2 separate regions of the Homo sapiens genome follow, and region 1 is linked to region 2. The links come from fine-mapping of genetic effects on gene expression. A gene starts in region 2. The other region holds a variant in brackets. All regions are shown on one strand. Distances are from middle to middle. Region 1 overlaps BST1 (bone marrow stromal cell antigen 1). Region 2 holds the start of BST1 (bone marrow stromal cell antigen 1).

Region 1 (16,025 bases), 31 kb before region 2:
ATCTGAAACTTCATATTAATTTGTTTTCTTTCCATCCCATCTCTGCTGCAGCTGGTGCCAGTTGCCATCTCAGGGCAGGCCCAATGTCCTCCTGGGAGCAGTCCTGAACCCATGACTGACAAGTAGATAAATATCTCAACCTCCTTCTGTCTCAGATACAATCAGTTCGAGGTGCATTCTGCACTGTATGCCTTAGTTCCCCAGCAGGCTTCAACCCCAGTTTCCTTCAGTGATAACAGCCTGATAACACTGTATTGGCTTCCTGCCATCCCTAACTCAATTCCCACTTCTTCATCAGTGTTTCCTGTACCTTCAGGTAGTTTATTACCTCCCAAATGAACTCCCTGGACTTATCCTCTGTCACAGGTCTGCTTCTAAAGAAATTCAAAGTCAGTCAACAACTTTGTCTTTGTCTATTTAGTGTTGCTGTAACAGAATACCTGAGCCTGAGCAGTTTATAAAGAAAAGAGGTTTATTTGGCTTAAAATTCTGGTGGCTGGAAAGTTCAAGATTAGGCATCTGTATCTGGTGAGGGCCTCAGGCTGCTTCGACTCATGGTGGAAGTGGAAGGGGAGCCAAAGTATGCAAAGAGATCACATGGCAGTAGGGGAAGCCAAGGAGGGAGGGAGACAGGTGCCAGGCTCTTTTTAACAGCCAGCTCTCAAGGGAACTAAGACAGTGAGAACTCACACACCCATCCCCAAGGGAGCACAGTAATTAATTCATGAGGGGTTGACCCCCATGACCCAAACACCTCCCAGTAGACCCCACCTCTGAACATTGCCACATTGAGGATCAAATCTCAGCATGAAGTTTGGAGGGACAAACATTCAAACCATAGCAAACTTAATCTGGCTTAAATAATAAAGAGGATTCCTTGATGAGCAAGAGAAGAGACCACCTTCTTCTCCATCTCAAACCCTGAAAAACTGCTTCTGGGCTTGTCACAGCTTTGGCAGCAGAGCTGAGCATGTTAAAATAAAATGGAGTTTTATTTGTTTGTACTGTATGTTGGTGAAGGAGGCAGCAGCAACAGAGACCGGGGCGTTATGCACCAACCATATTATGCATCTGGAGATTCCCAGAGCAGCAACTGGGACAGGGACTACTGAATCCCTCAGACTTTAGGCCATAAGCCAATGAACATTTACTGTAAAAGGTGAGATAATACTTTTCGCTTTGCGGGCCATGCAACCTCTGTTGCCACTGCTCAACTCTGCAATAGCTCAGAAGCGGAATAGATAAGCACAAACTAATGAGCATGGCTGAGTTCCAGTAAAACTTTATACACTAAAATTTGAGCTTCATGTAGTTTTCAGACGCCATGAAATAATGTTCTTCTTTTGATTTTTTTCAACCATTTAAAAATGGAAAACCCACGTGTGTCTTTGGGGTTGTACAAAAGCCAGAATGGGCCCCTGCTATGGGCCATTGACACATGCTCTCAATAAGGCTGTGAATTAGAGGTTTCCCTGCACACAATGTTGTAAGCCCCTTGGAGGTTTGGAGATTCCAGCATCTATGACTGATTTTTCATGAAGGTTATTGAGGATGTGAACAGAATGTTTCAGTACTTTCCCCATCCATCTGCCTCAGCTTTCCTCTTCCTACCCTTCCTCCCTTATCAGGAAGCACTTCTATAATAATAGGATTGCTAGGAGCACAGAATTCTCGGGCCATGTTTTACTCCTGGACAAGGTTACTCTACTCCAAGTATGGTGTCCTCCCTGGCCTGTCCACTCTAGCTGTAGACAGGGATGGCCCCTAGAGGGAAGCCTGCCAATCCAGCTGTTACATAATGACAGCTGATCTCCAATCTGTGATTCTACTTGTCTGTAGCAGCCCCGTTTGACAACTTTGTTGGAGGAGGAGTGAGTAACGGCCAAATTCAATCTTTTGTCGCTAGATATAATACCAAAAAAACTGTCACTGCTCTTCCCAAGACTCCTAATCAATATCATCAGTAAATATTGGCTGAGTAAATATATGCAACCTCTGTCACAACTACTCAACTCTGCGGTTCATGACGGATAATGAACCCTGTGGACCCCTCACGAACCACGGAGTTGAGTAGTTGCGACAGAGGTTGCATGGCCAGCAAAGCTAAAAGTATTACTTCACCTTTTACAGAAAATGTTCATTGGCCTATGGCCTAAAATCTGAGGGATTCAGTAGTCCCCGTCCCAGTTGCTGCACTGGGAATCTCCAGACGGATAGTTTGGCTTGTAAATAATGCTCCAGCCTCTGTTGCTGCTCCTTCTTCACCAACATATAAGAAATAAAATTACATTTTATTTTAATATCCTCAGCTCTGCTGTCAAATATTTGTTATAATTTAACAAATTAATAAATTTGTTAAATAAGGTGCAAATGCTGAAGACAAACTCAGTAGTTGAGAACATAAACCTTTGTATAGATTAGTCTCCCTACCTGAAAATATTTCCAATCCACCCCCTCACACCTTCACCTCTCATCTGGCTAATAGCTCTCGTTTTTTCAGGTTCAACTTAAGGAAGACTTTCTCTGGAAAGCCTCCTCTCCCGATACTAGACTATGTTAGGTTTCCCCCAGTGCACAATCCCAAAGGACTCTGTTTCATCTTCATCCCACAAATGAAAGTAGATAATAACTACTAATTTAGGCCCGACATGGTGGCTCATGCCTATAATCCTAGCACTTTGGGAACCCAAGGCGGGCAGATCACTGTGGTTAGAAGTTTGAGACCAGCCTGGTCAACATGGCAAAACCCCGTCTCTAGCAAAAAGAATACAAAAAATTAGCCAGGCATAGTGGCGTGTGCCTGTAGTCCCAGCTGCTAGGGAGGCCGAGGCATGAGAATCACTTGAACCTGGGAGGCAGACGTTGCAGTGAGACGAGACGGTGCCACTGCACTCCAGCCTCGGTGACAGAACGAGATTCAGTCCCCCCTGCCCCCAACTAATTTAGTTATCAGCCAGTGAGGATCAGGAGATACACTCTCTCCCTGTCTCTCTCTATCCTTATCTCTCTCTCTCTCCCTTCTTCCCTCTCTTTCTCTGTCTCTCTCTGTTTCTCTGTCTGTCTGTCTCTCTCTCTGTCAATGTCTCCCTCTCCTTTTCTCTCTCTCACCGACTTCCCTCCCTCCCTTTCTCCTTCCCCCTCCTACCACCAAATTTTATTACTAGCAGCAATGGTGAACAATGACTTCACTCTGATTATATTTCTGTACACATCTTTTTACCCTACAAAATTTAATCGAGTTTAATGTGTTCCCCTGAGAGCTTGTCACTGTATGTTAACTATTTTAAAATTTTACAAGCACCATCTTAGAGTTACTGTGTCACATGTCCTATAGCAAAGTCATGAAGGTGCAGCTGGCACAAGTCAAATGAAAACCCTTCTACTTTTGTGCAGGGGAGAAATACACACACACACACACACACACACACACACACACACACACGGTTTGGCTTCTTAACATGCATTTTTCTCAAATAAGTAAGTCATTTCAGTGAAGAGTTTGGGTAATTCTGACAGCTACCCTTTAATAGCTACATGATAAAAGAAGTTCCAAAGAACCAAATCACGTAACAAAGAATACATGTGCTTTAGAGAACCTGCTGCATTCTACATCTTTTAGGGGGAAAAACAAAACTATATTCCTAAAATTCTAAGCGGAGTGATTTAATACATATACGTTTCATATTGAAACATGTTTTAAAGAGACTACCAAGAAAACACAAATACATAAGACTTCAAGTAATGAGTAATTATGGTGAAATTAGCATAGTTCAGATTTTCCAACCTGCTTCATTGGTTATGCATGTGGGTGTTTGAAACCCTTGCCAGGTCTTTAAAAACAAGCTCCCAGTCTCAGCAATAGCTGTGCCCTGTTCTCCAGCATGGGCTTTCAATTTGCCCTTCTCTTTGGTGCCAAAAGTCTCCTGAGAAGAGTAAGGCTGAGTTCTGGGTTTCAAATGCCTGTGAATTAAGTTCTAGCAACTGCAGAGTCTCCAATGATGATTCATTGTCCTGAGTTCCACTTTCTCACCCTGGGAAACTTCAGAAAGACTGAAATGGAAATGAGCATTAGGAGCTAGGTCCGCTTGCCTGGGCTGTCTCTCAGGTTAGTGGAACTGGGATTACTTCTCAATCAGCCATGTTCATTTGGCACCTTTGGCAAACCTCAATTTTCACAGCAGGAGAAATAAAAAAAGCTAGTGTTCACTTGGCACATGCCTGCTTCTAGTCTTTACTTTGGAAATTTTCATTGTTGTGTTAGCTTACCAGGGTGGCCATAACGAACTATGAATTTGAGGGAACACAGTTCCGTCTGTAACAATCGTGTGGAAGCTGAACTTCAAACAGGTAAGCTATCAGCTGGCTAACGTGTGGTCATTCCCACTTCCCATCAAGGTTTTTTATTTTTATTTTTATTTTTTTATCAAACTCTCTTGCCTTCCAACATATATTTTTAAATCAAACAATATTTAGGAATGTTTTTAGGATCTTTTTCTCCTTTTATACTGACCAACATCATAGACTCCTCACCCTGTTTAACATCTTTGTATTCTCCGGTCTTTGTGAATGTCCCTCTGCTACCTTACTAGACACACCAGACTGACCGACTCTCTTATCAAAGAATGACTTATAGACGTCATTATTCTTTTTCCCAAGTGTCTGAAATTCCTTTTCAAATTAGGCTTTCATTTTTTTGAATAGGCTTTAATGTTTAGAGCAGTTTTAGGTTCACAGCAAATTTGAGCAGAAAGTACAGAGCTTCCCACATACGCTCTGTCCCCACACATACATAGCCTCCCCCACTGGCAGCATCCCCACCAGAGTGGTGGAGTGGTGCATTTGTCACAACTAATGAACCGACATTGAAACATCATGGTCACCCAGCCTCTGTAGTTTACCTGAGGGTTCACCCTTGGTGTTGTACCTTCTGTAGGTTTGGACACATATATAATCACCTGTATCCACAATTCTAGTATCATGCAGAGTATTTTCACCACCCTAAATATTTGGGAGTCCATTTTATCCTGTTTCCTCTGAAGCTTGTGGAGAGCATTCATGTGGACGGAGCTGGACTAGGCAGGCATGCAATTGACTCAACTCTTGCCAGAGCCTCTGGAGATTTCGGCTTCCTTGCTGTGGGAGTGGAAGGCATTTACATCTTTGGACTCTCTGACAGTCAGTATCTTCCCCATCATGGTTCCCACAGTTTCCTGTTCAGGTTCAGAAAGTACCTTGTTACCAAGTCTATCGTGCTAGAGGGAATACAGCCAAGTGTAAGGTACCTGGTACCTACGACAGGAGAGGAAAGAGAACTCAGTTCTTCATGTGCCCACCCAGTCCTTGTGCTCAGGGGTCTTCCATGTGCATTTCTCTTTTGGTCAAATGCTTAGCATTGTTCATTCACTTGGTAGAAGAGCATTAAGTACCCATTAAGTGTGCCAGGCATGGAGCTGGTGCTGGGACCTGTTTGTTGAAGACACACGAGGCTGGTTTTCTTAGCTGCTTTTGCCAGGGCTCCCTGCTGCCCCCTTGCTGCCCAGACCATGGAGGAACCGAGGCCAAGAGAGGTGACCTTGGCCAAGTAAGAAAAGCTTTCTATGTCTATGTTTTCTCATCTGTAAAATAGGATAATAAGAGAATTGATCCTATGGGGTCGAGTGAGGATTGAAAGGGGCCATTTATGAAAATACTTCACACAGTGCCCAGTGCACAGTAACTTCTGATCTGCAGAGAGTGCTGTATTGCAGATGGTGTTTAGACAGCTATCAAACAACTCTAGTAGTAGTAACAATAACACTAGCAAATAACACTTATACAGGGCTGATCTACTATACTCCTGGCACTGTTCTGGGTTCTTTATGCACATTCGCTCATTGAATTATGAGTACTTATAATCCCTACTTACACACACGGTGATGCAGCTCAGGTAAGGTAAGTGAGTTGCCCAAGGCTACACAGCGAGCAAGTGCTGAAGGTAGGATGTGGGCCAACCTGTTAGGTGCCAGAGTCCATGCTCTTGGCCACAATGTTAGGCTGCCTCCCCATTTCCTTTGTCTTGATTCCCCAAACCCAAGGTTCTCACCCAATCTGATCAAATGCTGACTAGGTCATGGCTGGTCAGGGTAAAGCATTATGACAGACACAAAGACAAAGAGGTAAAGTTGCTGTCCTCAAGAGAGAGAGACATAAAAACAAATGGATCTGGAACTAAGTAAGGCTTCGAGGAGGAGGTGAGCAAAGGTACCAGATCCAAAGGCTTATGTTGAGAATACGGAACTGAGAGAAGGTTCATGGAGAGTGCAGTGGGGTCTCCTGGGACACAGACCTAGTAAGGCAGTTTAGGGGCAAATGGAAAGATCTTGAATCGCAGATTTTTTTTTTTTTTTGGAGACAGAGTCTCACTCTATCACCCAGGCTGGAGTGCAGTGGAGCAATCTAGGCTCACTGCAACCTCTGTGTCCTTGGTTCAAGCAGTTCTCCTGCCTCAACCTTCAGAGTACCTGGGATTACAGGCACGTGCCACCACGCCCAGCTAATTTTTGTATTTTTAGTACATACAGGGTTTCACCATGTTGTCCAGGGCTCCTGACCTCAAGTGATCTGCCCACCTTGGCCTCACAAAGTGCTGGAATTATAGGCAGGAGCCACTGCGCCCGGCTTCTTGAAGAGCAGATTTTAAAATTTGAAATTTGTCTTGCCAAGGGTAGGAAACCATTGCTGATTTTGAGCAAGAGGACGATGCACTCAGGACCCTAGCGTAGGACATTGCTCTGGCAGCATTGTGGAAGTTAGGCTGAAGGAGAAACCAAGCAGAAGCAGAGAGATCAGTCAGGAGGCAATGATATGTTTGAAACCCATGATTTACCTTGTACAAAGGCTAGAACCGGCGGTTGTATGGTTCTGCTCTGGGTCGCACTCCTAATGTCCCACATAGCCTCTTGGGTCTATAAATATAAATATGTGCATAAAAACACATAGAAAAATGTCTGCTACTCTGCGTGCAGTATGACAGATGAGATTTGCCTTCTTCCTAATTTTTCTGTATTGTGTAGATTTTTTTCAAGTAAAGAGCCATTATTACTCTTATATTCGGGAAAAAAGTGAAGTTATGTTTAGTTTTTAAAAATAAAGCCTTATTTTTCTTATGGAACTCAAAATGGCATTTCTCTAATTGAGTCGCAGGTCACTGTGCTGTGAGTGGCTAAGTCGCCTGGTAACCCAGGCAACATGAAGGCAGCAGACACTGTGTTTTCCAAGCTTGGTCTAAGAGACGCCCCTTGGCTGGGGCTCCCATGGGATTGGCCTAAGGAGCCAGACGGTCCTGAGACAAACCATGAATTATGAATTGGAAGTTGGTTGGTTGGGTCCTTTTCTCTTTCTCTAAGTACCCAAAAGTCTTATGCTGCTTGTCATCTTCCCTCACGGCTCCCCTCACACACCCTAGCAATATCACACACTTCAAGTGTTTTATGAAAGTATGCCATAAATACAGAAAAGCATGCCACACCTTGTTATTAAGCTTCCCTTGTACCCTCCCTGGCCTCCTCCAACAAAAGAAAGCTAAAGAATCCCCCACCCTCTGTTTTCCTCTATTAAACTTAGTTCATTCACACGTGGAAGGTCTACTTCATCCAAGCAGGGCTAGGCTAGGGCTGCAAAGATGAGTGAGTCTGCAAAGAAGCCACAGTCCCAGGGTGAAGTTAGGCAAGGACCCAAACAATGCTGACACCATGAAGATGGGCCCTGTTAGGGAATTCTTTGCTTTTTTGCAGGGAGAGAGGTCAACAGAAGGATCCAGGGAGGAGGTGATGCTTAAGGTATGTCTTAGAGTCTGCCAGATGGGAGACAGGGCAGGAAGGAAAATCAACACAGAGAGACCAACATGTTCAAAGACCCTGAGGAGGGAGAGAGTAGAGAGCACGTCTGGGTAGAGCACCAAGCAACTTGGTTAGAGGAGCCCAGCTGAGCACACCTTCTGTAAGAAGCTAATACCGCTTTTACAATACACACCAGTGTCTACACCAAATGAACATTCTACCATGCCAGGTTTTCATGGATTTCATTCCTCTGCAGTCTCACTTCCCAAAGTCTCTTTCCTTAACCCTTCTGAGCGTGGCCTGGTTCCCGCTCCTGCCTGCTCCCTGTGGCAGTGTCCGACTGAAACCAGCCCAGCTGTCCCAGAGAAGTGATGTCTACTGTTTTTTGGATAAACATGAAAATTGACCCTCTCATCTAAGATTGAAACTTACATTTGTCTTATCTGAATTCCTTCTTCAGGAAACTGACCCTTAGGCAACCAGTTAGTATCAAGGAACCGAAACTCACCAGACCACCACATCCACACAATTAGATGCCAGACCCTTCATCCATCATGACTCCTGTTTAGCAGCTTCTCTTCCTTACCCCTCCCCCATTCCTGTTTTCTCACATATAGTTACATTTCCTTCCTGCTATGTAAACCCCTAAGTTTAGTCGACTGGTGGAGGAGACAATTTTGAGAATGATTTCCCGTATATATATTATATTTTAATATATTAAATTTGTATCATACTTTAGACATTTTCATCATATAATTAAGTTTTATATTTTATCTCTTACACATTTTCCTATGTGATTAAATGTTCTTTGAAAACATTTCTTTTTGGTTTACATAAAATAAAATTTACTCTTTTTCATGTACAGGGCCATGAGTGTTGACGAACACTTGGATTCATGCAATCACCACCACAATCAAGACACAGAGCAGCTCCATCGCTCCCAAAATTTTTCTCAGTGTCACTTTGCAGTCAGCGCCTCCTTCTAGTCCTGATCATTCTCAACCCCCACAATCACTGGTCTGCTCTCCGCTACTATAGTTCTGCCTTCTCGAGGATGTCATATAAATAGAATCATACAGTTGGTGGCCTTTTGGTGCGGCAGCTCTCACATTTGGGTTTCATCCATATTGCTGCATATATCAAGGTAGTTACCTTTATTGCTGAGTAGTATTCCATGGTGTAGATTTACCAGTTAGTTTATTCCTTCACCATCTGAAGGACATGTGAATTGGTAAACATGGCTTTTACTTGTTGAATGATACTCCATTCTACAAATATTCTAAAACCCATGTAAATAGTTCTGATATGGTTTGGCTCTGTATCCCCACCTAAATTTCATATTGAATTGTGATCCCCAGTGTTGAAGGTGGGGTCTGGTGGGAGGTGATTGGATCACGGAGGTGGTTTCGGATGGTTTAGCACCATCACCTAGTGCTGTCTCATGACAGAGTTCTCACGAGATCTGGTGGTTTGAAAGCATGTAGCACCTCCCCCTTCACTCCCTTCCTCCTTCTCTGGCCATGTAAGACATGACTGCTTCCCTTTTGCCTTCCATGATGATCGTAAGTTTCCTGAGGCCTCCCCAGCCATGCTTCCTGTAAGCCTGTGGAACAGAGAGGTGAAGCCAGCTGGACTTCCTAGGTCGAGAGGGGACTTGGAGAGCTTTTCTGTCTAGCTAAAGGATTGTAAATGCACC[G/A]ATCAGCACTCTGTGTCTAGCTAAAGGATTGTAAATGCACCAGTCAGCACTCTGTAAAAACACACCAGTCAGCACTCTGTGTCCAGCTAAAGGATTGTAAACGCACCAATCAGCACTCTGTGTCTAGCTAAAGGATTGTAAATGCACCAGTCAGCACTCTGTAAAAACACACCAGTCAGCACTCTGTGTCCGGCTAAAGGATAGTAAACACACCAATCAGCACTCTGTGTCTAGCTAAAGGATTGTAAATGCATCAATCAGCACTCTGTAAAATGGACCAATCAGCGCTCTGTAAAATGGACCAATCAGCAGGATGTGGGTGGGACCAAATAAGGGAATAAAAGCTGGCCACCGAGCCAGCAGTGGCAACCAGCTTGGGTCCCCTTCCACATTGTGGAAGCTTTGTTTTTTCGCTCTTCACAATAAATCTTGCTGCTGCTCACTCTTTGGGTCCGCACTACCTTTAATAGCTGTAACACTTGCCGCGAAGGTCCGCAGCTTCATTCTTGAAGTCAGCGAGACCACGAACCCACCAGAAGGAAGAAACTCCAGACACATCTGAAGGAACAAACTCTGAACACACCATCTTTAAGAGCTGTAACACTCACTGCAAAAGTCCATGGCTTCATTCTTGAAGTCAGCAAGACCAAAAACCCAGAGGTTGTCACAATTTTGTCACAATTCTGGACACAGAACTGTGAGTCAATTAAACCTCTTTTTTATTTTTATTTTTGTAAATTACCCAGTCTCGGGCAGTTCTTTATAGCAATGCAAGAACAAACTAATACAAGTTCCAAACAGTTTCAGTAAATATGTAAATATTACTGGATATTTTGGGTTTTTCCCTCATTATAAGTAACTATTATGGCTGGATGTGGTGGCTCACGCCTGTAATCCTAGCACTTTGGGAGGCTGAGGTGGGTGGATCACCTGAGGTCAGGAATTCGAGACTAGCCTGGCCAACATGGTGAAACCCCATCTCTACTAAAAATACAAAAATTAGCTGGACATGGTGGCAGGCACCTGCAATCCCAGCTACTTGGGAGGCTGAGGCAGGAGAATCGCTTGAATCCTGGAAGCAGAGGTTGCAGTGAGCTGAGATCTCCCCACCTCACTCCAGCCTGGGCAAAGGAGCGAAACTCTGTCTCTCAAAACAAAAAGGAACCATTAACTGAACATCTTTATACCAAATAAATGAAAAATGAAAACTTTGCAGACCATATATGCATACATTTATATAGTATACATATGTCTTAAGCAATCAACAAGCATGCAGTGTCCGTGCTGCTGGAGATATAGGAAAATATAGATGATGTAAAATACAGCTTTATTAGAATTCTCTTAAAATGTTTGATAATATACAAGCAGTCTGACTCCCAATGCTTTGTGTCATTATACAAATAAGAAAATAACTTGCTTTAATTCTAATGCAGCATTTTTTAACCTGCTAAATAGAACTAACTTCTTGTTTCTGAAATCCTGAACATATGCCTCATTGAAATACCATTTTCAGGACATCGTTTTCCCAGCAAAAAGCTTCTTTAGATAACAGAATCATTTGGTATACACAGAACACGAATGATGACTGCAAGGGGAGGCTGCAGGGCTGGAGGAGGGTTAGAGCAACACAGTTTCCAGTTACAGTTGAGTCCTGGAAGCCAGCACCAGAAAGAGGGGAATGATAAGACCCGCCCTTTGTTCTGTATAAAGACTTGGGGCTTTTCTTTGAGTAGCGGCTGCTGCCCTGCAAATTAACAAGGAAATAGAGAAAGTGTCAGTATTGGTGTATGGAATCTACGCTCAAAAATATATGTGCAGTATTAGTCTCTTTTCTGGTTAGCGCGGAGCGAGAAGCCATGAGCAGCAAAGTCTCCCGTGACACCCCGTAGGAGGCGGTGCGCGAAGTCCTGCACCGAAACCAGCGCAAGCACCCCAAGTTTCTGGAGATGGTGGAGTTGCAGATCAGCTTCAAGAACTATGACTCCCCAGAAGGACAAGCGCTTCTCGGGCACCGTCAGGCTTAAGTCCACTCCCTGCCCCAAGTTCTCCATGTGTGTCCTGGGTAACCAGCAGCACCGTGACAAGGCCAAGCCTGTGGATTTCCACCACATGGAAAACGAGGTACTGAAAAAACTCAACAAGAATAAGAAACTGGTCAAGAAACTGGCCAAGAGTATGATGCATTTTTGGCCTCAGAGTCTCTGATCAAGCAGATCCCACGAATCCTCGGCCCAGTCCTAAATAAGGCAGGAAATTGCCCCTCCCTGCTCACACACAAGGAAAACATGGTGGCCAAAGTGGATGAGATGAAGTCCGTAATCAATTTCCACATGAAGAAGGTGTTATGTCTGGCTGTGGCTGTTGGCCACGTGAAAAGGACAGACAATGAGCTTGTGTGTAACAGTCACCTGCCTGTCAACTTCTTGGTGACATTGCTCAAGAAAAACTGGCAGAAAAACTGGCAGAATGTCCGGGCCTTATATATCGAGAGCACCATAGGCAAGCCCCAGTGCCTATATTAAGGCACATTTGAATAAATTCTACTGCTACCAGTATAAAAAAAAAAAAAGCAAATTGTGCACACTGTGGAGAAATGTACATAGTATATAGGAAGTTATAAAGTGGAAAGTAAAAGTCTCTTAGTCTCCCCATTTGCACTTTCCATAGAAAACCAACTTTGATAGTTTGAGTTCTCTTTCCAGGAATGCAATGAACACATGCATGCTGAACCTGCTCAATATAACTAATTCCTATTTCTGCAATCCTGAGCACACACGTCATTGAAATACCATCTCAAGACATTCTTTCCTGAGCAAAAAGCTTCTCTAGACAACAGGACCTGCTGCTGCCCTGCAAATTATCCTTAGATGTCTTTAGATATCCTTTTATCTAAGCACAAATGGAATCTGCAACGTGCGTTCTTCACCTAACATCATATTTTGAACATGCTTCCATATTGGTACACAGGGAGTTAACTCATTCTTCCTTGTGGATGAATTCTTATTGTACGGATGGAACACAGTGTTAGCCAGGTTTCCTACTGATGGCTATTACATGATCAGAGTTTAAGTGGTGAAGAAAAACCTGTCCTGACATGAAGACATCAACAGAGGGCCTGCCCAAAATATGGACCCTATTCATAGTAAACAGTATCTGGCCACTGGGTTTGTAAAAACAGAAATTACTGAATTCTTTTAAACCAACTAAAAGATGAATTTTAAAATTATGAAACCATCTAATGTTGGCTTGGAAATATATCCCATGGCTCTGGACTAGTGGCCCTGTCCTTAAAAGTTCCTGACTCCATTTGAATGCTGGTCCTCTCTTTTTTGCTAAAGAAATCTGACCCACAGGTTTGTATTAGTGCTCCACCTACCGGACATTTTCTACAATTGCACCTGTGATGCAGTTAATGTCCCAGACTCGATTCACTCAAAATTTAAAATTACTTTTGCTTTCAAATAATTAACTAATTAACATAAGGTTACATTTTTCTTTACTTTTTTAAAAAATAAAATAACACATAATTAGATACACTAATAATGACAGCCTCCCTTCATCTTTTTCCAGTTTCTATTCCTTTGCCTAGAAGGAACCCACAGTTAGGTGCTTGGAGTTTACTTTCTCAGACCTATTTCTATCACTTACATCCATTATCATGCACAAATAGAAACATGCTGTTTTGCTTTCTTCTGGTTTACATGTCTCGGTTCATGTTCTGTGCATTGGTTTCTCACTTTGTAGCTTAAAAACCTTTTCTTGTCAATGTGAGACTATACTTGAGGGGGTAACTGCACTATTTGCAGTTACTTTGATTTTTAAAATTGATTCTTGTTATTACATTTATATACTCAAAAGCCTAATTTTCCCATGCCCTTTTATTTAATTTATAAATCACATTGTTCTATTTAAAAACCTGGTGAACTCTGACAATAACTCTTAAGGATTTGTCACACTTACTTAATTCCTGTGATGTTTTAAACTCAAGTTATTTCAGGTTAAGTTATTATTATTATTATTATTCTTTGAGACAGGGTCTCATTCTGTCACCCAGGCTGGAGTGCAGTGGCATGACTACAGCTCGTTGAAGCATTGACCTTCCCGGGTTTAGAGAATCCTCCTGCCTCAGACTCCTGAGTAGCTGGGACCATAGGTGCACACCAACATACCCAGCCAATTTTTTGTTTGTTTGCTTGTAGAGGCGGGGTCTCGCCATGTTGCCTAGGCTGGTCTTGAATGCCTGGGTTCAAGTGATCCTCCCGCACTGAACTCCCAAAGTGCTACGGTTACAGGCATGAGCCACTGGGCAAGGCTTCAGGTTATTTTCAACTTAAATATTAAAATATTACATCTTTTTTAAAAAATATTTTAAATGACTTTAAATTAGCAAAACTTTCTCAATTACTTGATTGTAGTAAACCTAATAAATGTATAAAATTTAATCTTAATTCTTTTACAAATTCCAATACTGGTTCAAAACTTAGTAAAATTCTCTTATAACTTCCTACTAAAAATCCCAAGCCTAAAATCAGTTACTTGGCTGAGCATGGTGGTTCACACCTATAATCCCAGCACTTTGGGAGGCCAAGGCAGAAGGATCACCTGAAGTCAGGAGTTTGAGACCAGCCTGGCCAACATGGTAAAACTTCATCTCCACTAAAAATACAAAAATCAGCCAGGCGTGGTAGCTCACACCTGTGGGCCCAGCTACTTGGCAGGCTGAGGCAGGAGAATCACTTGAGCCCAGGAGGTGGAGGCTGCAGTGATGAGCCAAGATCAAGCCACTGAACTCTAGCCTGGGTGACAGAGCAAGACTCCATCAAAAAAAAAAAAAAAAAAAGGAAGGAAGGAAGGGAAAAGAAAATTTTCCAGTAGTGCTGGCTTGCTCCTGTAGTCTCAGCCACTTGAAAGGATGAGGCAGGAGGATCACTTGAACCCAGGAGGTTGAGGTTACAATATGCCATGATCACACCACTGCACTCCATGCCTGGGTGACAGAGCGATAACCTGTCTCCAAAAAAAAAAAAAAAAAAAGAAAAAGAATTAGTTACTTAATAGTAACCCATATACTGGCATCACAGGTTTAATCCAACAGCTGTTCTTATATGCTACATTCTCTAAAATATTGCCAATAATTAAATACCAAAACATACAGATTGTCCCTAAATTTACCACAAAACTATTAATAAAATGGGTGGATTTACATCAACAGTTGTTTATTTCATTTGAAACCTTTGCAGATTAAAAGCCCTTTACCCCACTATTCCTAAACAAGTAGAGATGAGTAGTCCTGTCTCTGTGGCCTGGGGCATTTAGGATAGAGCCTTCCAGCTAAGTTAAAAGATCTGATGTTTGCCTTTGGCCCTTAGTGCCACACTGAGTCCTCATTCCAGTACTATATGTCTGTTTTCTCATATCATCACCAATCCTGCAGATTAAAAGTCTACTGAATTTTTGGCCAATATTATAACCTATAAGCGCTAAGGTTGGTTTTTTCCCCTTGGATTATTCATGGGGTCTTCTGCTTGCTGTATGATTATCCTACCATTGTCTTTAAGGGCTATATTCTACTCCCTCCAGTAAGTGTACCCTTTGATGTAACTGTTTACTTGTCAGTGGATATTTGAGTCCAGTTCCCAGTATTTCAGTATTATAAAGAATGCTCTGGAGAACATATTTGAGCATATAGGCTGTATGTGCATTTCAAATCACTTGTTTGGAATAGGGCACCAAAAGTACCCTAAAGTGTGACCTAGGTCAAAGACTGTGATATTTTTCTAATTCTTGACACATATTGTCAAATTGTTTTCCCAAAGCACTTTATCAATTTACAGTGACATCAAGCATTGAATAACATCTCTAAAACATTTTTCTGCTATGTTTTAATGTATGCCAAGAAAGTTTAGGTGAAAATGACACCTTGTTGAATTTGTTTTCCATTATTATTAGAGTGATTAAATAATTTTGTATATTTGCTATTTGTGGTTTCTCTTTTGTAAATTATCTATGACTATTCACAGCTAGAATGTTTAAAAAATAGATTAGAAAAATTCCTGCCAGGGTGATGAAAGTTGGTGAAAAACTTGGCAGAGTGAAAGAGAGTTTTATCCTTGACATTCAAAGGAATCAGCCAGAATTGTCAAAAATGTCTACCAACAGTCACTGAAAGAATGCCCACACACAGGGAAGAACAGGTCAGGAACTGCAAACCCCTTACTTACCTGCTGTGGTGTGAGACCCAGAGACATTTTAAGGCAGTGTGGTGTGGTAGGAAGAATGAGAACTTTACACACAGACAAATCTCCGTTTTGCTTCGGCCTCTGAGTAACATTAAATGATCACTTAATCCTTCTGAACCTCAGCATCATTGATGACAATCAAACTGTCTTCCTTCTAGGAATGTGGTTGGAGTAAAATGAGATGATGACTCCAGAGTGCCAGCTGGAAGCCTGACACTGCAAAGTGCTCAGAAATACTGAGGAAAACTCGGGAGGCTGAAGCAGGGGAATTGC
Region 2 (16,025 bases):
AACATTTACAGAATGTTTTCTCCGTGCCAGGCACTGCATTAAGTATTTTATTCCCTTAAATTCTCACAACTTTATATAGCAAAGAGCATGAATCATGATGTGGTAAAAGTGGAAAGTGAGGCTCAGAGAAGTTGAGTGATGACCTGGGGCCCAGACTCTGAATGACTATGTTCCATCTCTATGGGTCCCACACATGCTCAACCACTCAGATATCATCCCAGCATTACCTGGATGGATGCCCTTTTCCAAAAGGAATCCACAGGATTATTTTCACAGTCTTCTGATGTAGGGCAGGATTGGTAATCGAGTCCTAAGGGGTAAGTAGACAAACACATTTTATTCCAAAGATTATCTATCTCAGAGAAGAATTAACTTACAATATATCCCAGTTCCATGATGTATACTTAGCTTCCATTCTGTACAATGTGTACAAGTTTAACATCCACAGTTCTTCCCACTCAATCCACAAGGAGCCTGGTGAGGGACCACCTTGTCCATGATACTAAAGATGTTGGTCATTTTGCTCATCACAAATGTGAGGAAGGCAGAGAACTAAATAGCTGGCTAGTGAGTGAGTCTAGCTGACCACTGAGCATCAGTGTATTAGCTGGGTTATTTCTCAACAATGTTTAAAAACCCACAAACAACAACAACAAAAACCTTTGCTTTATTGGGAGAAGAGCCGTCTCCAAAAATTAAATTGTTAGCCATTATCTTAGTAGTAAATGCAAGGAAACAAAGGATTAAGAAAGTGATAATGCTTAGCCAGAAACAGAAATTTTATACAATTGAAAAATATATAAAATGTTAAAATGTATTACATTTTACAATGTTTAAGGACAGACTAAAGACCCTAGCAGATCAATGGGATGTGGGATGTACTTACCATATACTCTATAAAGAAAAAAAATTTCTAATCTACAAGTTGACCTCATATTCCTAGCAAAAACTGATATTAATGGCATTATTCATAATAGCCAAGATATGGAATCAATCTGTGTCCATCAACTGATTAATAGATAAAATAGACTGGGCACAGTGGCTCACGCCTGTAATCTCAGCATTTTAGGAAGCTGAGGCGGGTGGATTACCTGAGGTCAGGAGTTCAAGACCAGACTAGCCAACATGGTAAAACCCCATCTCTACTAAAAATACAAAAATTAGCCGGGTATGGTGGCACGCATCTGTAGTCCCAGCTACTCAGGAGGCTGAGGCAGGAGAATCGCTTGAACCTGGGGGGCGAATGCTGCAGTGAGCTGAGATCGTGCCACTGCACTCTGGCCTGGGTGACACACAGAGACTCCGTTTCAAAAAAAAAAAGAAAGAAAATATGGCATGTATGCATAATGCAATACTATTGAGCCATTTGCAACAACATGGATGAACCTGGAGGACATTATGTCAAGTGAAATAAGCCAGGTACAGGAAAACAAATATTGCATGATCTCACTTGAAAGTGGAATCTTCAAAAGCTGATCTCATAGAAGTTGGGGGTAGAATAGTGGCTACCAGAGGCTGGAGAGGGGAATGGATAAGGGAGATGGGAAGAGGTTGGTCAACAATATTACAGTTACATAGGAGGAATAAGTACTGGGGCTGTAATGCACAATAGAGTGGCCATAGCTAACAATAGTGTATTGTATATTTCAAAATAACTAGTAGAGAGGATTTTGAATGTCTCACCACAAAGAAATAGTAAATGTTTAAGATGATTGATATGCTAATTACCCTGATTTGATCATTACACAATGTATATATGTATAAAACATCACATTGTATGCCATAAATATATACAATTTTTTGAGTAAATCAAAAATAAAATTAAAATTAAAATTAAAAAAAGCACCAAGGCCAGGTACTGTGGCCTGTAATGCCAGTGCTTTGGGAGGCTGAGGCAGGAGGATTATTTGAAGTCAGGAGTTCAAGACCAGCCTGGGCAACATGGCAAGACCATGTGTCTACAAAAATAATTTTAAAAACAGCCTAGTGTGGTGGTGTGTGCCTGTAGTCCAGCTACTTAAGAGGCTGAGGCAAGAGGATCGCTTGAGCACAGGAGTTCAAGGCTGCAATGAGCTAGGATCACACCACTGCATTACAGCCCGGGTGGCAGAGTGAGACGCTGCCTCAAAAAATAATAATGATTTTAAAATATAAATAAATAAATAAATAAAATAAAAAAGAGCTGCTGTCAATGGTTTGGCTTTGCTATTTTCTTGACTTTTTTCTGTGTTTATTTACATAGATGTATTGTGTATATGTGTTTTTATTTGAATAGCCTCATACCAATCACAGGGTTATGTAAATTTATTTTTTGCTTAAAAACATGCCCCTTTCTGGGTCAATAAATAAAAAACCCCATCACCATTGCTGCTGGCCCCACAGGATTCCATGACATACACATATGGTTATTTAGCTGACCTGAACTGCTGGACTTCACTTCTTTCTGAAACAAAGAGCCCTGATAGGAGGGCATAGATAGAAAAGGGCAGCGAGGTGAAGAAGAAATAACTGGTGGTTTTCTGGAAGGCTCTCCCTTTCTTTATGTGTTTTTCATCACATTCCTCCCCTCCTTCTCCCCACCCTCTGCAGCATCATCAAACAAAAGCTTCCTGGAAGTTCTCCATTGAAAGAATGGCTGTGTCCATTTGACGTGGAACCTGCAATGCTGCCCATCTCACTCACAGTGAAAAGCAGAGGCCTCACAACATCCTGTGCCACCTGGCCCTCCTTTATTCCTCTAGCCTCATAGCTCACACTTTCCTCTTTGCCCACTGTCCTCTTTGCTGTTAAATATGTCACACACGCTCCCACCTCAGGGCCTTTGCAATTGCTGTTCTCCCATCAGAAAATGCTCTTTCTCATCTCCTTCAGGTCCTTGTTCAAATATCAGCTTATCAGTGAGGTTTTCCCTCGGCATCTAGGTAAAAATGCAACACTTTCCTTTCCCTGGCCCTCCACCCTCAATCTTTTTTGTCCTTATTACCTGTTTTAATTTTCTCCATAGCCCTTATAATCTTAAGGCAGTCTGTATATTTCACTTGCCTGTTTATTGTCTTATCTGCCCTCCTATAATGTAAGCATGGGGTATTAATTTCATGTTTTATTCTCTGCTGTTTTCCTACTGTCTAGAAGATGAGGGTCTGGCACATAGTAGACACTATAAATTTTAGTTTGATGGACAAATGAATGGAGGAGAAATAAACAGAACTGATATTAGGTTAACTCTTTTTTTTGTGTGTGCCGAGTCTCACTCTGTCATCCAGGCTGGAGTGCAGTGGTATGATCTCGCCTCAGTGCAACCTCCTTCTCCAGGGTTCGAGGGATTCTCCTGCCTCAGCCTCCCGAGTAGCTGTGATTACAGGCATGCACCACCATACCTGGCTAATTTTTTTGTATTTTTAGTAGAGTTTGGATTTCTTCATGTTGGCCAGGCTAATCTCGAACTCGTGACCTCAAATGATCCACCCACCTCGGCCTCCCAAAGTGCTAGGATTACAAGCGTGAGCTACCATGCCCGGCCTGATATTAGGTTAACTTTTGAAGTAACTCTGATACCCAGGAAGGATCTCCAGTCTTCATAATGGAAACACTCCCTAACCTCCTTTCCTTGCTAGCCTCCCTTCTGAAGCTTCCCTGATGATCTGGTGGAGGCTGGTGTCTCACTCTGCTACTCCTCGAACACCATTTTTCCTGCATTATAGCCCATATCACTCGAGCTGATATCCCCCATGAGGCTATAACCTCCCTGAAGATGGGGACTGCTGTGTCTCCAGCTCCTAGCACCACAGTTGGATGAATGAGGAGTGTTTGCAGAACATTCAGGCCAGCTCTTGTGACTCTAACTTTCCTTGTGACTTGGATCTCGAAATATCTGCCGGCGGCCTGGAGTGGTGTTACAGAGCACAGGCTTCAGAATCCATCAGGACAGGACTGAGACCCAGCCTTACCACTTCCAGTCATTTAACCTCCCTAAGCCTCAGCTTCCCCCTCTGGACAAATGAGGATAGTAAGGCAGAGTTGTGCAAAGTTGAGAAAATGGGCTCTGGAGTCAGACTGTCTGCTGCTTACTAGCTATGCCCCCTGAGCAGATTTCTTAATCTTGCTGTGCCTCAGTTTCCTCATTTATCAAAATGGGGATTATGATAGGATCCCATGAGGTTGTTGTGGGCATCAAATGAGTATGTGTGTATATATAGATATAGATATGTATAGATATGTATATATATGTGTATATATATGTGTATATATATATATATATATAGAGAGAGAGAGAGAGAGAGAGTGCTTAGACTGGCACCTGCAAAGTTAAGTATTCTCTAGTATTGTTATTATTAACTATTCTTGCCACTTATCTCAGAGGACTTGGAGAGGATCAAGTGAAATAAATGCATATGAAAGCATTTAGCACAAATGGTAATGCATAGTAAATAGGAGTTCTTAAGTCTCCTGTGATTTGTGCAGGAGTCTTACCAGAGTCATTTTTCTGTCGACACCAGCTCAAGAAATCTGCAACCCTGCCATACAGAACATCGCTCAGGGGCATAAAACGACGGGTGTTGTCTGCAAAGCTGTTAACAAGGAGGTGGCTATTTTCCCAGAACAGGGACTAAGGAAAGACAAACAAAACATCAAAATACAAAACAGAATCAAAACCGACTCCTCAGGCACAATATCATCAAGGCAAGTTGGGCAATCCAGTTCTCATTCAACTCTGACCTGCTGCACAACAACTGAACGTTCTTTTTCGTTGTCTTTATTTATTCATTCAAAGACTGCTAGCATCTCTCCTCCCTTTATTCCCAGGGTATCATGCAAATGTTAATGGAATATTTTCTCACTAGTACTAAATATACGTGCATGTGGTAAGATCCCCTACATTAAAAATGATCAAGGGAACTGGGCTGGAATCCTGGCTCTGTCATGTATTAGATATGTAATCTTGAGCAAGGCATGCAATCTCCCTGTTTCTCAGTTTCTACTTCTGGAAAATGCAGAGCATGAGCCCTTTCTCTTCTTCCAGAGCTGTGGCCAGGATAATAAGCAGTCACAAAAAGCACTTCCTAAAGTGTCAAGTGCCTCAAAAACACATTGCTTTTATATTATACTTTATAGTTTCCACCATAGTGTTTTTATATAACAATAACACAAATCCCCCAGTCACTATTTCATCTGACCCTCAGTAGTCCAATCAGTTTATATTTAGACTAGAAGGTCCCCAAGGGTGAGGGCTGTTTTTCACTGTTACATCCTTAACCCTTAGCACCAATGACTGGCAAACAAATAGCCCCGGAAGTATTTACTGAGTTCATCAACTAGCACCGAATCTATGAAACAGAAGGTTAAAAAGTCAGCTTCCCCACTTTTAGTGACAGGAGGGCAGCAAGGTTCAAAAGACAGCATATACTCAAAAATCATGTTTTCAGTCTATTCTATCTTTGAACCTCACAGTTCCATTTACTTGCCTTTACAAATAACACACAATGGAAAAAATCAGGTTAACAATGTTTATGTCACAGAAACAAAAATGGTGTCTAGCATTCCTTAAACTTGAGGTATTGTTTTAAGCAAGGGTTTTATGGAAATTTTCTCATTATTTTCATTTTATTAGACCTGAGAGTGTATACAGAATATAGATATGTGGTTTTCTTAAATAAACTGGTACTAAATAAATATAATCTTAAGACCCGTTAAATGGAGAGACTGGTCTCCCGGGAGGATACTGAGATTGAGAGTTTTCTGAATTACTCAAGGTTCAGGCCATTGGGCCAGTTAGGATGAAGGTTATTTAGAACTGGCCAGATGTGGAGGCCCAGTGTGACAGGTATGGCCATGTCCTGATGTCCTCATGTTGATTCTCACACTAACTTGCTAACTTAGGAAATTTTCTTCTGCCCACAACCAGCGGGAGATCTACAATCACTATTGGAAACTGATATGATTTGGATTTGTGTCTCTTGTAAAATTGTAATCCCCTATGTTGGAGGTGGGGCCTGGTGTGAGGTGATTGGATTATGGGGGTGGATTTCCCCCTTTGCTGCTGTTCTCCTGAGGGAGTTCTCAGAAGATCCAGTTGTTTACAAGCCTGTGGCACCTCCCTCTGCCCTTGGTCCTGCTCGTGCCATGTAAGACACCTGCTCCCACTTTGCCTTCTGCTGAAGTAAAAGCTCCCAGAGGCCTCCCAGAAGTAGATGTTGCCATTCTTCCTGTACAGCCTGTGGAACTGTGAACCAGTTAAACCTCTTTTCTTTGTAAATTACCCAGTCTCAGGCATTTCTTTATAGCAATGTGACAACGGACTAATACAGAAACAAAGCTAGCTTCCCACAGAGAGCTCAGCACACACATTATGTGTGCTGCCTGATGTTTCTGTGACATTGCAGGATGCAGGGGACAGCTAATGTCAACCTGGCCCATGCACCATCCATTTCTGTAGAGACAGAGAACACAGTTTTACCCAAGATGGTTGTGGTGTTACCTTATCTCTGGGAATAGAGTGCCTGGACAAGTTAATAAAAAGGTCATAGTCTGAGGGCAGCACGGAGCAGGGATCCTTGTCCAGCGCCACTTTAAAGGCTTCCCAGATGGCTGTGCAGTTCTTGTTCCTGTGCAAAAGTACAAGTTGGGAAGAACACACACATGCACATCATAATGTGTTGTGAAGTATGCCCATTTGTCTAAGAGCTTTACAAGAGATTTTTCATATAGTAACTGCAGAAGTAGGCTTACAAAAAAGACAACGAATTGTCATGGCTTAGGTGACAGATTCAGAAATCTGACACTGGAATTGTCTCTCTGAAGGCACTGCACAGATTTCTCAGAGCTAAGGAATACAGCCTTGCCCCAGGCTCACGGAGACAAGCAGAAATGGCACCGAGCAGGAGGTGACAAATTCAGTCAACTATACAGCAGGTGCCTCTTCATTTAGACCTAACGGTGGGGCCAGTCTCATAGTCCAGTTCCAGTGTGGAGCTCGGGGACCAGGTGAGGCCAGGCCAGCCAGCAGGATGTGTAGTGTTAGGAGGGAGGCCCAATGCTGCAAAAGGCTTCCACCTCTGGCAAAGCAGGTGCACCCTCCAGTGCAAGCCCCTCTTGAGGTCCATGCTAGTTTTCAAAAAATATTTCCCATAGCATTTGTAACTTTGTTTCTCATACTGGGTGGTGTGTAACACAGGTGGTTCTCTGCTGTTTCTTATTTGCCTGAAATGTGCGACAATAAAAATGATCAGCACAAGAAAGACATCACAAACATAAGAAAAGGGGGGCCACAGAAGGAACAAAAATCAGTAAGAAATGCAGCACTGGCAAGAAAGACCCAAACTTCAGAAATCCTCCAGATTTAGGGGATCTGAAATTTGAATTCTGGAAGGACTGGACTCAAGGAATTCCAACCTGAGATCACATTCTGGGTTCTGAGTATTCAGACTAAACATCTGCTGGGTGGCAATGGGCTGTTACCCAGTTCACCTCTACCCCACCCTCACTTCTAGAGGGATACCTCTCCACCCTCCTTCACACTCACACACACCTCTCACCTCTAGACCACACACACATCCCTCACCTCTAGACCACACACACATCCCTCACCTATAGACCACACACACACACCTGTCACCTCTAGACTACACACACACACCCCTCACCTCTAGAACAAACACACACACATCTCACCTCTAGAACACACACACAACTCACCTCTAGAACACACACACACACACATCCCTTACCTCTAGAACACACACACCTCTCACTTCTAGAACACACACACCCATCATCTCTAGAACACACACATCTCACCTCTAGAACACACACCCCTCAACTCCAGAACACACACACACCCCTCACCTCTAGAACACACATACACACCTCATCTCTAGAACACACACTCTCCTCAGCTCTAGAATACACATACACCCCCTCACCTCTAGAACACACACACCCCTCACCTCTAGACCACACACACATCCCTCACCTCTAGACCACACACACATCCCTCACCTATAGACCACACACACACACCTGTCACCTCTAGACTACACACACACACCCCTCACCTCTAGAACACAGATACACACACACCTCTAGAACACATGCACGCACCCCTCACCTCTAGAACACACACACACACATCTCACCTCCAGAACACACACACCCCTCACTTCTAGAACACACACACCCCTCACCTCTAGAATACACACACCCCTCACCTCTAGAGCGCACGCACACACACCCCCTTCACCTCTAGAACACACATGCACACACCCCTCACCTCTAGAACACACATACAGACACCTCACCTCTGGAACACACACACCCCTTACCTCTAGAACACACACACACATCTCACCTTTAGAACACACACACACACCCCTCACCTCTAGAGCACACACACACACACACACCCCCACCTCTAGAGCACACACACACACATCCACCTCTAGAGCACACACACACCTCCCACCTCTAGAGCGCGCGCACACACACACCCCCCTCACCTCTAGAACACACGCACACACCCCTCACCTCTACAGTGTGTGTGTGCGCGCACACACACACACTCATCTCTAGACCCCGCACAGCGCACCCCTCACCTGCAGACACACTTCACAGCCCCCTCCTCACTCGCCCCCATCGTTCAGGACCATCGCTGTCTCCACACTCACCTCTCCCCTCAAGGCCTCTCTCATTGCCCCCTCACCCCGAACTTTAGCGCCAGTTTTCCCCTCCCCAGGCCCTCCCCACCGTTGCCTCTTTCCGGCTCCCCTTCCACCCGGCCGACTGCCTCACCGCTGCTCGGGACTCAGCAGTGCGCGGTACTCGGCGCAGCGGCCCAGGAAGATGTCCCGCAAGTGTGCGCTGGTGCCCTCCCCGCGCCACCGCGCGCGCGCCCCGCCCGCCGCCAGCAGCAACAGTAGAAGCAGAAGCTGCAGCAGCAGCTGGAGCAGCCGCGATGCCGCGCACCCCTGGGCCGCCATCGGGGAACTTTGGTCCCTCCAGTCCCGTGCTTCCTCCACTCCCCTTCTCTCCTTCTACCAAGGCGGTTCCGCAAACTGATGCAGGGCGGGACTCTCGCTCGGATATCTCGCTGTTTGCCGTTTCCCGTTCCAGACAATTTCAAGACTGAGCGTGGGGCGGGGCGCGGCGGCTCATGCCTGTAATCCCAGCACTTTGAGAGGCCTAGACGGGCGGATCGCTTGAGTATAGGAGTTCGAGACAAACCTGAGTAACATACAGGTGAGAAACCTCCTCTCTACAAAAAAATACAAAACTTAGCTGGTCCTGGTGGTGCGCATCTGTAGTCTCAGCTACCTGCGAGGTGAGATGTGAGGAGGCTTGACCCCAGGGGATCGAGGCTGCAGCGAGCAGTGATTGCACCACTGCACTCCAGCCCTGGGCGACAGAGTGAGACTCTGTCTAAAAAAAAAATTAATAAATAAATAAAATTAAAAAAGAGTGAGCTTGGAACATCACCCAGGACAGGACCAGTGCACTGTGGCCCAGGCTAATCTTGACCGCTGTCCACGGGGAGGGAGCCCCAAAGAAGCCGCAAGGTTGAAGGAGAGGTGAGGAGAGGTCAGTCATCATCAGAAGAAATACTTTTCTGGCTCCAAAGGACGACAACTTTGACAGATGCCCTCTTTCACACCAACCAATAAGTGGTGTTTGTTTGTTTTCAGGAAATAATAACCACAACAACGTGCCAAGCACTTTGCAAGTATAATATTAATTACTTTCCGCAACACCCTTCCTAGCTAAGTTTGTAATTTCTCTCGCTTTAGCAATGGATAAACTCAGGGAAGTTAAGCATGTTCGGCCCTCCAGATTTGCGGATTCATCATCCAAATTCAGCTAACCACGGATGAGAAACATTTGAGGAAAAAAAGAATGCTTGCATCTGTACGGAACATGTACGGACTTTTTTTTCCTTGTCATCATTCCCTAAATAATCCAATGTAACAACTACTTATGTAACAATTACATAGTACTTGATATTACAAGGAATCTGGAGATGACGTGAATTATAGAAGAGGATGTGCAAATACTGTATACTACACCATTTAATATAAGGGCCTTGAGCATCTGTGGATTTTGGTATCCAGGAGGTTCCTGGAACCAATTCTCCATGGATACCTACCGCCGACTGTAACTTGTCAGAGGTCACAATATCCCTTCCTGATAGATGCAAAATCCTGGAGATGTTCAGTTTAAGAGAGCCAGGATTGGCCGGGCGCGGTGGCTCACACCTGTAATCCCAGCACTTTGGGAGGCCGAGGCGGGTGGATCACGAGGTCAAGAGATCGAGACCATCCTTGCTAACACGGTGAAACCCCGTCTCTACTAAAAATACAAAAGATTAGCCAGGCGCGGTGGCGGGCGCCTGTTGTCCCAGCTACTCGGGAGGCTGAGGCGGGAAAACGGCGTGAACCCAGGAGGCAGAGCTCGCAGTGAGCCGAGATCGGGCCACTGCACTCCAGTCTGGGCAACAGAGTGAGACTCCGTCTCAAAAAAAAAAAAAAAAAGAGCCAGTATTAATAGAATACCACGTGGAGGCCCAAGTCCTCAATTCTTACAATAATGACAGCAATGAACTTTGAGTGCCTGGCAAGCACTTGATAAACACAAGGGAGGACAGAACAGGTGTTCTCTACTGTTTTATTTGAATCTCTTTTTTTCTGTAACCAAAACCCGCATTCTCCTGTTCAGTTCCTCCTTAAGTTAAATCCACTTTCCAGAGGAAAGCATTTTTAATTCTTTCAAGTTTTGTTCCTGTGTTTACTTCCATATTTCTAAATAACATGTGTGAACCCGCAAATTTTGAGACAGGTCTCAATTAATTTAGAAAGTTTATTTTAGCAAGGTTGAGGACACGTGTCCATGACACAACCTCAGGAAGTCCTGACGACATGTACCCAAGGTGGTCAGGGCACAGCTTGGTTTTATACATTTTAGGGAGACATGAGATATCAATCAATATATGTAAGAAGTACATTGGTTCTGTCCAGAGAGGCGGGGACAACTCGAAGCACGGAGGGGGCTTCCAGGTCTCAGGTAGGTGAGAGACAAATGGTTGCCTTCTTTTGAGTTTCTGATAAGCCTTTCCAAAGAAGGCCATCAGAATATGCATATATCTCAGTGAGCAGCTGAATGACTTTGAATAGAATGGGAGGCAAGTTTGCCCTGAGCAGTTCCCAGCCTGACTTTTCCCTTTAGTTTAGTAATTTTGGGGCATCCCTGGCATGGCTCGTCCCACCAAATCTAATGTGAAATTGTAATCCCCAACGTTGGAGGTGGGGCCTGGTGGGAGGTGATTTTATCATGGGTGTGGGTTTCTCAAGAATAGTCTAGCACCATCCCCTTGTTGCTATTCTCATGATAGTAAGTGAGATCTGGTTGTTTTAAACTGTGTAGCACTGGCAGGGCGCCGTGGCTCACACCTGTAATCACAGCAGTTTGGGAGGCTGGTGTGGGGGGTGTGTTGGGAATCACGGATCGAGACCATCCTGGCCAACATGGTGAAACCCCATCTATACTAAAAATACAAAAATTAGCTGGGCGTGGTGGCACGCACCTGTAGTCCCAGCTCTTCGGGAGGCTGAGGCAGAAGAATCGCTTGAACCTGGGAGGCGGAGGTTGCAGTGAGCTGAGATCTCACCACTGCACTCCAGCCTGGTGACAGAGTGAGACTCTGTCTCAAAAAAAAAAAAAAAAGAAGTGTGTAGCACCTCCTCCCTCTCTCTTGCTCCCTGCTGCCACCGTGTAAGACCCATTGCTCCCCCTTTGCCTTCCACCACATTTGGAAACTTCCTGAAGCCTCTCCAGATGCAGAAGCCACTATGCTTCCTACAGCCTGCAGAACTGTGAGCCAATTCAACCTCTTTTTCTTATAAATGAGCAGTTTCAGGTATCTATAGCAATGCAAGAACAGACTAATACAATACCTATATGCTATTTCTTGATGTTTCTGTTTGGGACATTATTCTGTTTGGGACATTATGACATTTTATTTGTTGTAAACCTCTTGTTTACCCTGGAGGTAATCATTATCTAGAAAGTAACTAGCTTGCTTTTGATATTACAGGCTCATAGGCAGAAGGCATTTGCCTTGTCTCAGATGAAACTTTGAACTGTGGACTTTTGGGCTAATGTTGAAGTTAAGACTTTGAGGGTCTGTTGAGAAGGCATGATTGGTTTTGAAATGTGAGGATGTGAGATTTGGAGGGGCCGGGGTGGAATGATATGGTTTGGCTGTGTCCCCACCCAAATCTCAACTTGAATTGTATCTCCCAGAATTCCCACGTGTTGTGGGAGAGAGCTAGGTTGGGGTGGGGGTGGGGAGGCAGGGTGGGAGTAATTGAATCATGGGGGCCGGTCTTTCCCATGCTATTCTGGTATTCTGGTGATAGTGAATAAGTCTCACAAGATCTGATGGGTTTATCAGGTGTTTCCACTTTTGCTTCTTCCTCATTTTTCTCTTGCCGCTGCCATGTAAGAAGTGCCTTTCACCTCATGCCATGATTCTGAGGCCTCCCCAGCCATGCAGAACTGTAAGTCCAATTAACCCTCTTTCTGTTCCCAGTTTCAGGTGTGTCTTTATGAGCAGCATGAAAACGAACTAATACAACTAGATCTCACATCCTCCTCTTTCTTGTTTTATGGAGCACATCTTCCAATAGCTTCTTGAGAAGATACACAGGGACTAAACTTTCTGAGATTTTTTGCATAAGAATTCAAAATGTCATTATTCTACCTTCACACTTAATTGAGAATTTGATTGGATGTCTGAGATTTTTGCATAAGAATTCAAAGTGTCATTATTCTAACCTCACACTTGATTGAGAATTTGGTTGGGTACATTTTTGCATTGGAAAGCATTTCCCTTCAAAATTTTGAAGACTGTGTTCCATTGTTTTCTGTGTTGCTGTTGAGAAATCTGAACCCATTTTCCTATTCCTGTTTATTTGACCTTTTTTGTTGTTGTTTGTTTTGTTTTTTATTCTTTGGCCTGTTTTTTTTCTATCTGGAAATTTTCAGAATTTCCTTCTATTCTTAGGAGTATGAAATTTCAGAGATGAAGTTGGGCAAAAGTAGTTGTTTTTCATTGTACTGGACAATCCATGAGCCCTTTTAACCTACAAACTCATGTCTTTAAATACTGAGATATTTTCTCAATTTTTTGGTAATTTCCCCTCCTCCAAATTCTGTTTTCTCTTTCTGAAATTCCTGTTACTCATATAGGAATGATTTCCTTGTTAGACTTCCTAGTCTTTAATTTTCTATATTTTCACCTTTTTTCTTTGTCTTCTTATACTTTCTTGAATATAAATTTATCATTATCTTCCAACTTCTCTGTTGCTTTTTTAAATTTATACTATATATATATATATATATATATATATATATATATACTTATATATACAGTTGTGTTCTACACGTTCAGGTCTTTTTGCTTTTTATAATCTTCTCTTGCTGTTTTGTGAATATTTCTGAGGCTTTTATTACAGATGTAGGTTTTTCATTTTTCTTTTAAATTTTCTTCTGCCAATGTCTGTTTCCTTTGAGTGCCTTATTTCCATTTTGGTGACTGGCTTTAATGTGAGAAGTTTCCCTCAAATAAACTGATGACCTTTGGCTGATTATTTTTACAAACACAGAAAAACATAAGGAACAGTATTAGTTCATTGTCGCACTGCAGATAAAGACATACCTGAGACTGGGTAATTTGGCAGAAGGCAACAGGCACGTCTTACATGGCAGTAGGCAAGAGACAGCTTGTGCAGGGGAACTCCTCTTTATAAAACCATCAGATCTTGTGAAACTTATTCACTATTATGAGAATGGGAAAGACCCACCCCCATGATTCAATTACCTCCCACCGAGTCCCTCATATGACATGAGGGAATTGTGGGAACTACAATTCAAGATGAGATTTGGTTGGGGACGCAGCCATACCATATCAGGCACTAATTAGAAGCAGGCTCAAGGCAAATGGTCAGAGTTTGTCAAAGGGTGGGCTGCCCTGTAGGATGAACATACTGCACTTTATCACTAAGAGATACCTGTCATTTTCTCTTGGACAGTCCGTTTTTCCAGAGAGTAATATTCCTTTTTTTTTTTTTTTTTTTTTTTTTGAGACAGAGTCTCGCTCTGTTGCCCAGGCTGGAGTGTAGTGGCGTGATCTCGGCTCACTGCAAGCCCTGCCTCCTGGATTCATGCCATTCTCCCGCCTCAGCCTCCCAAGTAGCTGGGACTACAGGCGCCCACCACCACACCTGGCTAATTTTTTTTGTATTTTTAGTAGAGACGGGGATTCACCATGTTAGCCAGGATGGTCTTGATCTCCCGATCTCGTGATCCACCCGCCTCAGCCTCCCAAAGTGCTGGGATTACAGGCGTGAGCCACTGTGCCTGGCCTAATATTCCTATTTTCTACCTGGAAGGATATATGCCTGGATGATAGCAATGTGGAGCTGAGTGGGGGAAGGTGGCTGGGAGAATCTCACTATTCAGTATAAAGATTTTCACTTATCCCTCCTCTCTCACCACATTTTTAGTAGAAGCTCTGGCCTCACTGATGCCTGGTACCCCACAACCTAGAATCTTTGGTCTACTCTTCAGGAAATATGTTGCTGCACAGGATTAGGGAGGGCATTCTTGGACTTCCAACTACTTTTTTGACTTCCAGCCCTACATCCACTCCCACTTTCATGTTAGTGACAGACCTTTCTTCCAATTCCTCTTCCTTTTGAGGGTTCATGACATCAAACAACTTTCTTCACAGCTTACATTCTCTTTCCCCACTAGCCAACTGAGGTTTCAGCCTTCACTGGCCAACTAAATTGTTACCCCTTCCTCATTTTCTTTCCACCATCCCAAATTCTGTTCCTGACAACTCCTCTTCTTTTCTCTTTTCCCTCATGGTTTACTCCTTTTTCATTTTGTTTATATTCATCTTATTCATTGTCATGGGGGATGAGTTTGTTTTGAGGGAAGAAGTCTTTCATACCTCACAAACCCTCAAAACATGACTTTATCTTGATGTGTGAGGCAACAGGAAATACACAGCACCACTTCTGAAGTATCCATGCATCTGTCTGTCTATCTATCTATCTATCTAATCTGAATCTAGCAAACTTTCAGATTTAACTACAGTTTTCAGGAAATATAGAGGATAGAGGGACATGTTAAATGATACCACAGGCAGTCATGCACTGAAACCGGCTGACAATATTTGACAGGTATATTTTCAAAAATGTATCAAAAATCTGGGAGCCATTTGTTAAACACAGTCATATTAAAAATTAAATTATATAAACTTACAATAAAATAAATTATATTAAAAGCAGGCCGGGCACAGTGGCTCACGCCTGTAATCCCAGCACTTTGGGAGGCCGAGGCGGGTGGATCATGAGGTCAGGAGTTCGAGACCATCCTAGCTAACATGGTGAAACCCCATCTCTACTAAAAATACAAAACATTAGCTGGGCGTGGTGGCGGGTGCCTTTGGTCCCAGCTACTTGGAAGGCTGAGACAGGAGAATGGTGTGAACCTGGGAGGTGGAGCTTGCAGTGAGCTGAGATTGCGCCACTGCAATCTCAGCCTGGGCTACAAAGCCAGATTCCGTCTCAAAAAAATAAATAAAAGCAAAGGTAATAAACATCCAAAATACATAACTTCTTAATTATTTTACTACATGTTGCTATTATTTATGCTCTTGGGGATATTTATATCTATTTTATTTTGGGTCTACGTACCAAAAGCCAAAAACCAAATTTATATATTGACATTCATCAAAGCTAAGAAATTCTGCTCTTCAAAAAACACCACTAAGAAAATGAGCAATCCACAAATTGGGATGTACTTGCAATACATGTATCTGACAAAGGCATGTATGTAAAAAACAGGGTTGTCCAATCTTGTGGCTTCCCTGGGCCACATTGGAATAACCCACACATAAAAAACACTAACACTAACATAAGACTAACACTAACTTCAGCCACACATAAAAAGCACTAGCATTAGCTGATGAG

What was found.
Region 1: its variant is fine-mapped to the expression of BST1 in whole blood (TOPMed, PIP above 0.99).

What each region holds. Positions count from the first base shown.
Region 1 is chr4:15,726,972-15,742,996 of GRCh38, reverse strand. It overlaps BST1 (bone marrow stromal cell antigen 1), which reads right to left. Exons shown (of 9, transcript NM_004334.3): 9 at 10,210-11,257. The coding sequence ends at 11,152. It also overlaps the pseudogene RPL10AP7. Among named protein-coding and RNA genes, the nearest start is that of BST1, 32 kb to the right of the region's middle. The variant G/A (reference allele first, on the strand shown) is at 9,514.
Region 2 is chr4:15,696,092-15,712,116 of GRCh38, reverse strand. It overlaps BST1 (bone marrow stromal cell antigen 1), which reads right to left and starts at 9,052. Exons shown (of 9, transcript NM_004334.3): 1 at 8,785-9,052; 2 at 6,476-6,602; 3 at 4,471-4,606; 4 at 228-310. The coding sequence starts at 8,972. RefSeq lists a silencer at 9,034-9,113.